Linked DNA regions of Homo sapiens. The main gene of each other region encodes a partner of the protein of the gene in region 2 in a complex. Each region holds a gene or a part of one and is shown on either strand. Other genes may lie near its edges.

Region 1 (7,409 bases), on a different chromosome or scaffold from region 2:
TGTTTGGTCACAGCTGTATGCCCGTGCCTAGCACGGCCGGAACTTAACCAATATGTGTTGAGGGAATGAAGGAAAGATGGCGTGCCTGGCTCAGCCCTCTGGACTGAATCTGGGCGCTTCTGCTATCTGTTATGGCTGAGTCGCATCAACGCTTCAGTCAGACTGAGCAGGCCGGGTCTGGGCCACGTGGCCACACTTTCTGATGTGAGTAAAATGGGATTTTGGCAAAACGAAATTAAAACAAGGTTTTTAGGCACTTGTCTCAAGAAATTAATGGAACACTCTAGAACTCTGATATGGAGCATCCAGATTGGTAGACATTTGTCGTGTGGTTTGTTTCTTCAGAAGCTGTTGGGAGCATTGCAATCCTCGAGCACACAGTTGTGTTTGTTGTTTTGGCAACATCAGTGAATTCCACAGTCAGCAACTGCATTTGAGCAAGTTTTACCAGCAAGCAAAATTTTCAGTCAGTAAGGTCCAAACTCATGAAGAATGGGTTTAAACTTGTTGAATGTAAAGATTGAAACTGAAGCCACGTAGCTTTAATGATTGCCAGTACAACAGCAGTAGTTTAAAGGCTGGCACTGCAGGTGCTCTGCGTATTCTGATTTTATTAAAATAAAAAGTTGGATTGCAGAAAACACTCACAGGTGGCAGGACAGGGCTGAATAATGTCCCTCCAAATTCATGTCTTTCCCAGAACCTCAGAACCTGACCTTAATTGGAAATAGAACTTTTGTGATGTATTTAGTTAGGAAGACATTTTATGGGAGTAGAGTGAGCCCTAAATCCAATGACTGGTGTCCTTCTGAGAGAAAAGAAGACAGAAAAACAGCCATGGTGAGAACCCCATGCGATGATGGAGGCAGCGATGGGAGCAATGCTCCCACAAGCCATGGGCTGTGAGGCCGCTGGCACCCCGAGGCCAGGAAACAGGCCTAGAGCAGACTCTCTCCCAGCCTCTGGAGGAACCAGCCCCGCTGACGCCTTGATTTTGAACTTCCAGCCTCCAGAGCTGTGGGAGAAATGTTTCTGTTGCTTTAAGCTACTTGGTCCATTGTCCTTTCTTGTAGCAGTACCAGCAAAGGAATGCTGAGGTCCCACCGCCCCAGAAGAACTTCCGTGACTGCCAGGACAGCTGTGCTCGTTTAAAGGCTAGACTGCAGATGCTGTGCGCATTCTGATTTTATTAAAATCAAAAGTGTGCACAGCAGGGTCCTGAGTGGGACCTTCTGGGACCTGTGTTCAGCCCCACCCACCCCACAGTGCAGCTGCCGAGGCCTCTGAGGCAGAGTAGGGGAGAGAGATGGCCTGGCCCTGGCTCTCCGGGGCTGGCCATGTCCACCCAGGGTCCAGGCCGGCCCCCGGGGACACCACAGGCCATGGTTATGAGCCAGGCCCGCATCACACAGCTAAGGGTGCCAATACCCTGTGGACCCAGAGGTCCGCGAGGTGGGCGCCTGCATTTCCCATTGGCAGGAAGGGAAGCTGGCGCTCCACCAGGACTCTGCATAACTCCCCTAGTTTCCTCCTGTGGGTCTGGGTGGGCTCCTGGCCTGTCTTCTCATCCCCACCCTCTGCTTCTTCCCAGGAAGAGGAGTCCTGCCAACTTCCATTCCCAATAAGCCAGAGCAGCTTCCAGAGTCCCGGGCCGGGCTTAGGGCCTCGGGAGCCCCGGGCCGGGCTTAGGGCCTCAGGATCCTAGAGCATTCCGGCTGCAGAATTTTCTACCAATTCGCGGAAGCATCTGTCTGTTTGCAGAGTAGCTTTGCTGTCGATGATGATGGCATGGGTCCTTCCAGGGCCTTGTTCCACCCACGCTGATCTCATCCCACCACAAGCATCACAGTGGGCTCCTGCAGGGGGCAGTGTGGCCTGAGGGGGAGGAAGAAGGCTGGGCGAGTTGGAGCCACACAGTACCCCATGAAGACGGGAGTCCCGTTCCGCGTGGGAGACAGGAAGATGTGGCTCAGGGGACAGAGGCTGGGGAGGGCAGGGGGTTGAGGGTGGGATGGAGAAGACCCCCGTGTGATGTGACTGGAGCTCCAAGTCACCAGGCGGAGGGGCCGTTTAGGTCAGTGATGCACTGAGGATCCACTCAGCCTTCCCAGGGGTCTCCCCTTTCCACCCCACGAGGGTCTCCCCCTGCTCCGTCTCTCCCTCACACATTCCCTTCCCAGGCCTGGGTCCCCTTGGTGCCCCTGCCTGTCCACTTTGTCCAGGATGCAAACAAGTCTAGGGTCCCTGTCTCTCGTGTCCCCACCAGAGGGGCCTCCTCTTCCTCCGCTGTCCCCAGGCTTGCCTGGCTTCTGTCCTGTCTGGGCCTCTGCTTTTGGACAGACCCGGGGGTCCTGGACAGCCCTGCTGCCCCCACCTGTCCAGCTGTGCATTAGGCAGCTCCTTCCCCGACGGAGCCAGTCCGAGAGTGGTGGCACTGGCTCGGCTCAGCCTCCTCCTCCCTGGGAGCTCCTCTGCTGTGCCCCTCGTCCTGTGCCTCCCTGTGGTGGCAGATGGCTAACTGTCCTGTCTCTGCCTGCCCCAACCCCTCCCTCTCTCTCTGTCTCCGTCTTTCTACCTCTGTCTCTGCCTCTTGGCCTCCCATCTCACTGTGTCTCCGTTTCTCCTTCCCTCTCCCTTTCTCTCTCTGACTCTGTCCTTGTGTTTTTGTCTCTGTGACCTCTGATCCGCCCGTCTGACTCTCAGCCCCAGGGAGCCACAGCTGGCCTTGAGGATGCCGTTGGCTGGAAAGGCCAAGCCCAGCCATCCGAGCCCAGCCTCTGGCAGCACTCAAGGCACCCACCGTCCAGGCTGCAGAGATGAGAGGGTTTCCCCAACTGCCGCCCCTCCCTGCTCCCTGGCGCTGCTTTTGGGTCTGAAGGGCGAGGGGCACTTACGACTTTCCCCGAGCAGCAGGAGGCCAGCCAGGGAGGCACTGAGCAGGACGAGGTGCAGTGGGCGCCCCATGGTGTGGCCGAGTACTGTGTCCCTGTCCTCACTGGGACAGGCTGCTGGAGCAAAGTCCACGCCCCAGCTGGGATGGCTGTTGTCTGGCTGCTTATCACTTGGCTTAGGCCTCCTGATTGGAGCCGAGACCTGCTGGCGAGGCAGGGGAGTGACCACGCTGGGAACACATCCACTCTGGCCCCACCTTCCCCAGGCAGAGCTGGGCGGCCAGAGAGGCCCCGCAGAACCTCATCCTCATCAGTCACCAGGGCCGCGGGTGTGGGGACTTTCTGTTCTAAGAATAAAAACATCATTTCGTGCTCATTTTGTAGTTTCCAGATGTTTACATTTAACTCTCAGTCCTCACATACAAATATCATTTTCCCCATCATTTTTCCAGAAGAGAAAACTAAGTTTAGAGAGCGCAGAAGCCTGAGCCGAGGCCGCTGGCAGTGAGCGTGGGATCTGAGCCCAGGACTTCTGCCCCAAGGCCCTGCTTGTTTCTGGGCGGGCCCTTCCGCTCACAGCCACTCTCTGGGTGGTATCAGGTGGTCTCATGTCACGGGGGGGGCTTGGCATCTGCACCATGGCCTCCCACAGGCCAGGCTGGCACCTGCCCCACCCACCCCCAAACCTTCTGTGCCCGCATGGCCCCAAAACGTACTTCTGTGGGGAGTGACCTTCCCGTGACCATCTGGAGGGACAGGCTGTGTCTGAAGCCCCTCCTGACCTGCCCACCACTGGCCACACTGTTCCGAGGCTGAGAGGGCTTCTGGGCTCGTTCTCCAGTGCAGAAACCTCCCATCACAAGGTCCTGAGTGTCTCTGCTCAATGGCTGTGGGAGTCACTGGGAGGTGCAGCCGGGCTTTTTGCCTCTGGGGTCTCTGGAATAAATGGTCTAAAGCTTGGCCAGTGTGGCGATCACTGCCTGCTATGCCGTAGTGGCCGGGGAGCAATGCCCCTAACACCCACAGCACTGGCCACTGCCTCATGGTGCATCTGCCTTGATGGGTCGCCCTGTCTCGCAGCCACCTGCACATGAGCCTGGTGTGCACACATTGTGCGTCATTGTGCCTGGCACACAGGAGGCACTCACTGAGCCCCACCCGACTGCACAAACTGATGATGCTGGATGCCAACGCCAGGCTGGCCTCCCACGGCGGGCACCACGCACAGCCTGGTCCTCTGAGAAGGGCCTTCCTGGTGGCACCAGATGTCTGACTCCTGCCTCTCCTGGTCTCCACCCTCTGACATCGCCTCTAGGCATGTTTGTATGGAGAGACCAATGCGGTGTGTGCACCAACAGCAGGATGCTCATGGCAGACACGCAGTCTTTGTCATCAATGCTGGGTGGCGATGCTGGCTTTGGTGGCCCAAGCCTGCCGCCTCATCCCACCCTGTCCCAGGCCCATGGCCAGTGGCCTCCCCGTATTCTATCTCGCCACTCACAGAAAGCTGGAGCTGAGCCGTGGCAGGTGGCACGTCCCATATGAAACATGTAGCCTTTGGGGGCGCCCAGGCCCTTCAGCGAAGCCTCTGGGGAGTCCCGGGCCCCCTCCTCCGGCAGCACCATGAGGTGGGCGCCTGCATTTCCCATTGGCAGGAAGGGAGGCTGGCGCTCCACCAGGACCCCGCATGACTCCCCTAGTTTCCTCCTGTGGGTCTGGGTGGGCTCCTGAACTGTCCTCTCATCCCCACCCTCCGCTTCTTCCCAGGAAGAGTCCTGCCAACTTCCACTCCCAAGAAGTCAGAGTGGCTTCCAGAACCCTGGGCTGGGCTTAGGCCCTCAGGAGCCCCGGGCATTCTGGTTGCAGAATTTTCTACCAATTCACTGAAGCATCTGTCTGCAGAGTGGCTTTGCTGTCGATGACCATGGCATGGGCCCTTCCAGGGCCTTGTTCCATCCATGCTGATCTCATCCCACCATAAGCATCACGGTGGGCTCCTGTTTTACACATGAGGAAACTGAGGCATGGTCACTCGGACAAAAGAGAAAGCAGAGCCAGCTCTGACCTGGATCAGGGCCCGCCACTGGCTCCCGTCCCGTTTAGGGGGCATTAGGAACCGGGGTCTGGCCAGGGTCAGCAAGCATCTTCAGCAGAGGTCCTGACACTAACCATGCTGGGCTTGGCGGGTCAGCTGGTCTGTCCGGCTGGACGTCTCTGCCACGGCCACTCCATGGACACTAATATGGGTGTGTTCCCATAAAACTTTATTTACAAGAGCAGGGTGCCTTGGAAGCAGCCCACGGCTGTAGTTCATAGACCCTGTCTGCTCTGAAGTAGATGATGCCTGAGTGCCCCCGAGGTGGGTTGCTGGTGCCTGCCTTGCTGCTGTGAGTGCCAATGGTGCCCACCTTGCTGCTGTGAGTGCCAGTGGTGCCCAGGACGGCCCTGCAGGGATGGCATCGAGTCCACTCTCTGAGCCGTGCTTGCCGGAGTCTGAGTGGGGGCACTGTTTGTCACCTCCCCATTTCTCTGTTCATGTGTTTCTCATTCTTCTTCCACCACCCTGGGGACTCAGCAAGAGTGCAGCTTGCCAGGTCCTCCCACTGCAGCCAGGGCCTGGGAACTTGCATTTAGTGATGCGTGTGTCCCTGACTCTTGAGCAGGTGCTCCCAGGGTCTCTGTGAAATATCATTGACAAGGGCTGTGGCAGGGAGAGAACATCCAATTCCACAGGATCCTGGGAGCTACAGCCTCAAACATCTATCAAACAGCTTTTGTTTTTAAAAAATAGCTTCCATGTGAGGGTTCATTTCAGTGATGTTGAAAATTGTGAAAGAAAAGAGCATCTCAGAGGATGAGCACCGGGGGCTCCAAAAATGAATCATGGGCAACCCAGTGGGTGGCAGGCACCACAGGTGTGCGGAGGAGACGCAGCCGTTTATTGTGAAGCTGGGAAGCAGGTGGGGAATAGTCTGTGCAGCCCGGCACCCAGCGAAGGGAGAAATACATTTGGGGGAGAGTTTGGGGGCATTCGCCACCATGCATGGTGATGCTTCTGAATTGTCTGAAGTGAAGATGATAATGGATAAGAACCAGAAAAGTGAGAGCTAAACAACCGCCTTCAGAGGACAGCACACATGGAGTCAGCATCGGTGTGTGTGCATCTGTGTGTGCATCTGTGTGTGTACATCGGTGTGTGTGCGCATTGGTGTGTGTGTGCTCATCCATGTGTGTGCATATCTGTGTGTGCGCACATCGGTGTGTGCATATCTCTGTGCATCCGTGTGCACTGATGTGTGCGTGCATTGGCATGTGCGTGCATCCATGTGTATATCTGTGTGTGCATCTGTGTGTGCATATCTCTATGTGCGTGTGCATCGGTGTGTTTGCGTATCTCTGTGTGACCATCTGTGTGTGCATCCGTGTGTGTGCATATCTCTGTGTGTGTGCATTGGCGTGTGTGTGTGTGCATCCATGTGTGTTCATGCCTCTACTGTCTCCAGCAATGAAGGCAGAGCAGCAGCCTGAGGCCAGCAGATCACGTGCAGGTGGGCTTGGCTGAAGGGAGGTAAGGAGGCTCAGCTGGGCTGTCTGCCTCCAGGACAACCTTGGCACTCCCCTGCCCCTCTGTCCAGCGCCTGTCTGCCTCTGCCTCTCATCTTTTCTATTCCATCTCTGTGTCTCTATTAGTCTCTTTGAATCTTGGAGTCTCTTTGAGTCTCTCTCCATGTCCTCAGAGTCTCTCCCTCAGTCTCTCTCTGTCTCTGTCTCTCTCTGTTTCTGTCTCTGTCTCCCTCCCCACCTCTCCCTCCCTCCCATGCCCTCCTCTACCCCATTAACTGCAGAAGAATATATGGGATTTGGTGCCAGGACAGTTCGACGCAGCCTTGGCTTTCTCTCCACAGGCCAGGGCTGCTGGGCTAGGGAAATGGGGCTCGCAGGAGGACTCCTGGGCGTGGCTCTGAGCGCATGAGCTTTTGCAGCCACTCGATGTACTGGGAGACCCTGGTGTACACCCCAAAGTGGCCCACGGTTGCGCAGCCCTGGCCCCAGCTGACGATGCCCGTCAGGTACCACGTGCCCCGGTAGTGGGTGGCATGTGGGCCTCCACTGTCCCCCTTGCAGGAGTCCTTGCTGCCATCCGAGTAGCCGGCACAGAACATGTACTCCGTGATATTTGGGGAGTCTCCCACCTTCCGTGACTGCTGCAGGCAGTCCTGGGTCATCAGCCGGGGCACGTTGAGGACCATGAGCTCCAGGGCCGTGGCGCCACGGTCCAGCAGCTGGCCCCAGCCGCTGACCAATGAGAAGCGCACGAAGGCCAGCGTCCTCTCAGAGAACGTCCGTTCGGGCAGGCAGAGGGGCACCACATGGTCAGTGAGGACCACGGGCTGGTGCAGGCGGAGCAGCGCGATGTCGTGGTTGGTGGTGCCCGGGACGTACGTGCTGGGGATGATGACCTGCGCCACCCGCCGGCTCTGCTCATCCCCGTCGTGCTCGCTGAGGTCGTGCTCGCCT
Region 2 (7,549 bases):
ATGGAATTGCCATGACTGTAATTTCTTGTTATTCTCTAATGTTTGGCTTTTTCTCCATGTTTAAGTTTCTTTCTGGCATTAAGTTTGAGACTTAAGAAGAGTCAGTTAATTCCATCATTTCCCTGTGCTAGAAAACTCAAGAACTGGCAATAGCACTTACTTAGATGTTATTTGATAGAAAGGAACTTTGGCTCTAAGAAGTACCAATCTTGATAGGAAATTTAAAGAATTGAAAGGAAAAAGGAAATGATAGGTTTCTTAACTAATGTGACTTCAGATCATTTTACCATATCGTAACACAATAGTACTAACTCAAATCCATTTTAGACTGGATTTAAAATCACTTCTGCTCATATAAATTTATTCTATTTATTTATGATGTAGATATTAGTCAGGCTTATTTTTTCTAGATAATCTGAAGTCAAGCTGTTTGGTGAAAATGACAGTTCATTTACGTGTTGAGATATGACTCATATGAGGATAATTGCTTTGAAAACACTGAGTAGGGAATGCCTTCAAAATCCTCCTATACTTACCAATATCCTTTCGTTGCAACAAATTTCACTAATATAATATGAAAAACATATAAATGAATCATGACCAGTTGAAATTTATTGTTTTCCACTATGGTCTTACTATGGCAAATAAAGATGAGGAAATACTCAGTTCCAGTTTGCAATAATAAAACTTCACAGTAGGAAGATTGCATAAAAATGAGAGGCATTTTCTAGGAAGCAGGTTAAAGTGGAATTTTTAAAACGATGCTATAGTAGGTATAAGTAAGTCCAGAAATATTAATTTGGAAGGAATTTGACTGGAGGTTGTAAAGGGTCATCAGAATGGAAAAAAAAGAAGTAGGGCAAATCGTGTCCTCCAGTTCTCACTTGCAAATCCCACTGAAGGCAGTGGAAGGTTTATGGAAATACCTGAAAGACACATTTGACCTAGTTCAAAAGCTCTATTAAATTAGTATTTTAATAAATTGTCCTAGATAAGTCTTGTCTTTATGGTCCTTTTAACATTATTTCACCCATAGTTTGCTTGAAAATTACAGAAAAGAGGAAAAGCTAACAAGGGACATTTGACTTCTCCTTTAATTTAAAAGATACTAAGATACTTTGTCTTTTTCACAACCATGCTGAGAAAATGTCCTTTGTAAAGAAATATATGAATCCTAAGTAAGCTTTGCGTTTTTTGATGCCCATAATATGGGAAGTACAGACAGATATAAAATGTATAGTTCTGTTACTTAGCTTGAGGGAATTCAGTCCCTGAAATGAAACTGTGTCTAGAACTGATGGCATCTGATTTAAGTTTTATTCGATAATACTGAGCACATAAATGTTATCATAGTTGTTTCCTCAGGATACAAGAAAGCGCTAGGTAGCCTCTTTCTTTCTGTGATTCATATTTACTAAAACCTCTATTTTGGCCTGATATTGCCCAAGATACACAGCAATGTACCTTGTCAGGGGTACCAGATTTAGTTTCTGGAAATGCAGGAGCAAAGCATCACTTAATGGCATTTTGGAGTTAGCTATAAAACAAATTTGATTTCCTTAAAAAGATAGGCTTTGATAAGCACTTACCACTGGGTTTCAGACCTATCTTTGAAGGTAGGACCAAGGAGGCTTCCTGGAGACATCCATTAACCGAAAAGGGAGCCAGGTGAGACTTTCTCCACTCAAAACTATGTCTTATCCAGGAGGAATAATTTGGAGTATAGACTCTGGAGCCAGTCCAACCAAGTTCACATCCCTCCTCTATCACTTACTAGCTTTGTGACTGTCCCAGCCACTCCAGCTGTGGCTGAAAGGCTCCAACGTACAGCTCAGACTGTGGCTTCAGAAGGTGGAAGCTCCAAGCCTTGGCAACTTCCACGTGGTGTTGAGCCTATAGGTGCACAGAAGTCAAGAATTGAGGTTTGGGAACCTCCGCCTAGATTTCAGAAGATGTATGGAAACGCCTGGATGCCCAGGCAAAAGTTTGCTGCAGGGACAGGGCCCTCATGGAGAACCTCTGCTAGGGCAGTGCAGAAGGGAAATGTGGGGTCAGAGCCCCCACACAGAGTCCATACTGGGTCACTGCCTAGTGGAGCTGTGAGAAGACTGCTACCATCCTCTAGACCCCAGAATGGTAGATCCACTGACAGCTTGCACTGTGCACCTGGAAAAGCCGCAGACACTCAATATCAGCCCGTGAAAGCAGCTGGGAGGGAGGCTGTACCCTGCAAAGCCACAGGGATGCAGCTGCCCAAAACCATGGGAACCCACCTCTTGCATCAGAGTGACCTGGATATGAGACCTGGAGTCAAAGGAGATAATTCTGGAGCTTTAAAATTTGACTGCCCCACTCGAATTCAGACTTGCATGGGCCCTGTAACCCCGCTGTTTTGGCCAATTTCTCCCATTTGAAATGGCTGTATTTACCCAATACCTGTACCCTCATTGTATCTAAGAAGTAACTAGCTTACTTTTGATTTTACAGGCTCTTAGGTAGAAGGGACTTGCCTTGTCTCAGATGAGACTTTGGACTGTGGACTTTTGGGTTAATGCTGAAATGAGTTAAGGCTTTGGGGGACTGTTGGGAAAACATGATTGGTTCTGAAATGTGAGGGCATGAAATTTGGAGGGACTGGGGCAGAATGATATAGTTTGGCTGTGATCCCATTCAAATCTCAACATCAAATTGTATCTCTCAGAATTCCCATGTGTTTTGGGAAGAACCCAGAGGGAGGTAATTGAATCATGGGGGCCGGTCTTTCCTGTGCTATTCTCGTGATAGTGAATTAATTCTCATGAAACCTAATGGGTTTATTGGGGGTTTCTGCTTTTACTTCTTCCTCATTTTCTCTTGCCACCTCCATGTAAGAAGTGCCTTTCACCTCCTGCCATGATTCTGAGGCCTCCCCAGCCATGTGGAACTGTAACTCCAATTAAACCCCTTTTTCTTTCCAGTCTGGGATATGTCTTTATCTGCAGTGTGAAAACGGACTAATACAGTGACCCTACTTTGTTTTATCTCTCTGAGCTTCCAGTATCTAATTTCTTTAAAAAATTGATATGACTACAGGGTTTTGTGAGAATTTAAGGGTAAAAATATCTTTGGTGTGGGGGGTGGGGGGTGGCTAGAGCATTGTGTTTTGAAATTTAGCTCTCATTTTTATTTTATATGAAGCACCATCACTCAGATTTATTTCTTAATCCAGTTCTCCACCTCCTTCATTGAGATAATATAATAGAGGGTTGTAAGGGGGCCCTGAATGGGAGAAAGGATATATGGATGCAGAAGGAGATGCCACAAGATAAAAGCTGAGAGAGCTACTTCAATAAAAACTCTGTGAACTCTCCCCTCCCACCGTCTCTTGATAATAGCCTAACACTATTTGACAAAAGGTAAAGAAAGGCATTCTCTTTATTCTGCAACATGACCTTTGGGGGGTTTCTGTGCATCATCAGGGCAGGGTCAAGCAGCATCCAACCATCCACAGGTGAAAAGGCATGGGGCCGGGGGGAGGCGGGAGTGCTTCTGAAGGCGCGGGTGGGTGGGTTTGTGGGGCTGGAAAAGAGGAATGAAACCAGATGCCACAATGCAACTGCTCTCTCTGGTCCCTGAGCCCTCCTGAGACACTCCCAGGGGTTGCTACGAAACATGATCAAGAGCTGTGGGTTCAGCAATTGACAGAAATGTATCAAATCACTAAGCATTTCTTGCTTGCCTGTTACACATTGGGCATGGTGTTAGCAATGGTGACACAAAGATGATAAAGACGTCGCTGATCTCAAGTCCTTGTCTGGTTCAACCACGTGCCAAGACATTTTAATACTCTGTTGGGAATTCTCAGGCAGCACAGGCCCAGGCGTTAGCAAAGCAGCCAGGGATTTCAGACAGAGGGTGCCATCCAGGGTAAGAAAATGAACTTTTTGTGTCACATTTGCATTTTCATTCCTTAACTAAGAGTATCTGAAAATACTGATGGCACAAACGAACTAAATTCCTGCTTCAGCACCAAATGGATGAACTACTACGGTTTAAGCATTGAACTAGTCCTAATATCACCATTCCAGAAATGTCTTAGTATTAATCAGGACAAGAAATAGGGATCTCTTTCGCAAGAAGCGAGACTGCACTCCTTCCTTTCCTTGTATACGGAAAGGGGACAAAATCCACAGTGAAAGGCCTAGAAGCGGCGCACTCCGCCCACGGGCGGCCCACGTGTCCACCTATTCCGCACCGCGCCCTGTCCCATCCCTATGGAGCGGGGTCTGCCAACGCTCGCGAGAGCCCTCTCGGCTTCCACGTTTGCCACGTTCCAAAGGACCGAGACAAACTGGAAAGCCGAAAGAGGCTCGCGCTCACAGGCAGCTGCGTAGCGCCCGAACAGCCCTAAGTGAGCAGGGGCGGGGAGCGCGGCAGGGTACCGCCGCCTCGTAAGGGCCCTTGCGATTGGGTCCCAGGCGCCGTCACTCAGCCTTCCGGGGGCGGGGCGAGGCCGGGAAGGGGCGTGGCCGTCGGGCGGCGAGCCGCGCGCTCTCGCCCCGGGAGGGAGTCACAGGTTCGTACACGCGAGGCCGGGCGCGCGCAGCCGGCAGGCGGGTGAAGTCTTCCCAGGTGCTGCAGGCGGTGCTGAGGCACAGGGTCTGCTGCAGGAGCAGCGGCCCGAACCCGCTCCAGCGGCCCGCCGCCGCCAGCGGTTCCCGCGTCGCGTGTGTACCCCCGCGCACTGAAGGAGGTCCGCCAGCCCTCACCAGCCCCCGCGGACCGTGCAATGGCCCAGCGTAAGAATGCCAAGAGCAGCGGCAACAGCAGCAGCAGCGGCTCCGGCAGCGGTAGCACGAGTGCGGGCAGCAGCAGCCCCGGGGCCCGGAGAGGTCAGAGGCCCTGCGGGGCGGGGATCTGGGGCCTCGCCTCGGGGTAGGGAGCCGGCTGGCGCGGCGGACGCTGCGGGTGCATCTCCCCAGGTCCCACCGCGCGCCGCCTCCATCCCCCGCGACGCTCCTCCTTTAGGCGCGCGGGGCGGAGGCCGCATTCGGCGGGCCTGGCGGGCGGGCGAGGGGCCAGGCGGACCGGGGTCCGAGCCCTCGGGATGCTAGTCTCGGGGAGCCCCTTCCCAGCGGTTCCTTCACCTGCAGGGCGCAGCCGAGACAGAGGTTGCTGAACGACTGTTTCTTGGCTTTCCGTGGAATTGAACATGGGAGTAAGAGAACAATTTATCGTTTGCCTTGCGTGTTTTGGGGAGTTGAAAATGAGCCAAAGTCAGGGAAAGTGAGTTCCTGCCTAACCAGCAGCGTTTCAGAGCAACTCAAAGGAGGTGAAAATGGGGGCGCCGGGGGGCAGGGGGAGGGAAGAAGTTGGGAGTGATTTGAATGCTCTCAGAAATTATTTTAAATATTTTTGCTTGTATGTAGCTTTCTTAATATGCGTTGCAGTTGCCTTTAAAATAGAATGTCATGAAATACTGAACGAGCGTCTGTATTTTTACCACTTTTACTTAAAATAAAAATCGATTGGATATTCACCTTTCTCCTCGTCCGTGTGCATATCCAGCAGAGAGAACAGATTTTTAAATCTGTTTCGTCTCATATTTCAGTGATTCTTGGTTTCTTTTATACTTCCTTTGACTCATATTTGGGATATTGAAACTGCAATACACATGTGTATGGAATGTGAGCTGTAAACTTCACTTGAAGTGATTTAGACTCTTTGTTTTCTGAGATCTTCAGATCATGCATTCATAATATACCAAGAAAATGAATCAGCTATAGTCAAAGAAGTATTTTCTTTATAGCACTTGTCACTATCTGAACTTGTCTTATTACTTTCATGTGTGTTGTCTTTGGCTCATTCTCTCTGTATCCCCAGCTCCTAGAATGTTCCTTTCCCATAATAGGTGCTCAATAAATATTTGAGTAGTGAATGAATGAATGGATTTAAATGGGGAAAGTAGTGCATTAAATCCATTGCACAAATTTACATTCTAAGGACTAATATTTGTATTCTAAAAGTAAAGATGTAGACACAGTTTGAAGTTCAATGCAAGCATATTAATTCACCTTTGACATAAGTGAAAGTTTGTGTTCCTTTTTCACTTGTTCTTAAATGTCACTTACTTAAACCTGCAGAGGGATAGATTAATTGCCTCAGCCGACTGAGGCTACTCTTTTTTAACATCCCTAAATGAGAATGGGTTCTTCTCATTGTGCCTCTAAGGGCACTAAGCAGAGAAAGCTGATGAACAACTTTAATGTTAGTTGTTTTCAAAAGGTTTCTGTAGCTATTTGCCAGAGAAGCATGTCTTCGTTCCATTTCATTTTTGTGTTTATGAGGAGAGGGCTGATTGCATCTGAGGGAAGTCACTTTATATGGCCTCTTATTGGTGAGAACTAATACTGGGAAATGTGTCTCACGTTTCTAGACCTACCCCATAACTATTTGAAGCATTTTAACAGGCAAGAGATAGGTTTAGAAAATGCAGTAACTTAAATTAACTTCTCCTGACTTTCATAGTCAGGCATTTTAGAACAAACTCTGCCCATATTTGAGGATCTACAGCCTTTTAAGCATTTTACACGTTGATTCTCTAATAGTCATGAAACAGACATAGTATGTAAAAGAATATGTAAAAGGGAGGAATGCCCGTGATACGAAAACAAAAGTTGATATTGGAACCCTGCATGTGACGTAATGAGTATTCTTTATCCGCATATCCGCAACCTTTTCTTTTTTTTCTCCAGTAGATACTGAGTTCTTACTGTGTGCCAGATAGAAGGCACTGGGTATGGAAACCATTTCCTTCCATCACCCTAAACAGTTAAAGTACAGTGTCGTGTATAGTAGGCTGTACTCGAAAGATAAAGCCGGCTTTTCTTTTAATGCTGTTTACCTGGTCATTAAAGTACGGACGTTGTGCGAACCATTTCCTTCTACTGGGAAAATCAAAGACTTTTTAGCAGTGTCATACTGTGAGACCCATTTAGTTTCCTGCTCAAATCATACAGATGAGGAAATTAATGCCCAGAGAAGTTGCCGAGTTCATTGAAGGTTGTTTAGTTCATGGAAACTCAACTAATTACTGGAAGAACCGAGACTAAGAACCCAGGTTTTGTTATTCATTTTGCCATGCTTGAATTTTAGGTTCTCTAGTATGTAATTGGAGTTGAACTAGATTATCAAGTTTTCTTCTGGCTGTCTCCATGAGTACTACATTTAATTATTGGAGAAAACTATGCTTTTGTCCTATCACCAATTACATTTCCCTTGACAAAAATTCTATTTGAAACACTATTTGAAATTTTAGTTTGAGAAGAAGTATATGTGTTCAAATAGTACGTTTTTTGATATGTCTTACATTGAGAGTCAGAAAATGACGGCATTGGTCACATTAAACATTATTATTTCTTAAGTTGTTGTGTAAACGTATGGGGAAAAAAGAACCCAGTCATTTGAAACATGCATTTTAGGGAAAAGGTGATTTCTTTTTTTTTTCCTGGCCAAACTTTATCTTGGTGGTTTTTTTGCTGAAAAGTGATGTTTGGAAGCTGGAATTTGG

What was found. The genes of interacting proteins can lie anywhere in the genome.
Region 1: the proteins of ASPH (region 2) and F10 are in contact, whole or in part, in a crystal structure (PDB 6Q9F), measured with the Homo sapiens proteins. Residues at the interface, in NP_004309.2 of Homo sapiens: Ala389, Glu390, Arg393, Ser394, Asn395, Leu398, Gln431, Phe432, Leu433, Gly434, Met436, Arg437, Val462, Leu465, Leu466, Ile467, Gly468, His493, Phe496, Ala500, Arg526, Phe529, His530, Arg562, Ser563, Leu564, Tyr565, Asp616, Glu617, Leu619; in NP_000495.1 of Homo sapiens: Asn97, Gln98, Lys100, Cys101, Lys102, Asp103, Gly104, Leu105, Gly106, Glu107, Tyr108, Thr109, Cys110, Thr111, Leu113, Glu114, Gly115, Phe116.

Annotation. Positions count from the first base shown.
Region 1 is NC_000013.11:113,118,411-113,125,819, reverse strand, and holds the start of F10 (coagulation factor X isoform 1 preproprotein), read right to left. Parts: upstream 3,022-7,409; 5' UTR 2,965-3,021; coding exon 2,895-2,964; intron 1-2,894. Other genes in the region: F7 (coagulation factor VII), read right to left, coding at 6,812-7,407. UniProt on the Homo sapiens protein: Factor Xa is a vitamin K-dependent glycoprotein that converts prothrombin to thrombin in the presence of factor Va, calcium and phospholipid during blood clotting.
Region 2 is NC_000008.11:61,711,591-61,719,139, reverse strand, and holds the start of ASPH (aspartyl/asparaginyl beta-hydroxylase), read left to right. Parts: upstream 1-4,547; 5' UTR 4,548-4,768; coding exon 4,769-4,871; intron 4,872-7,549.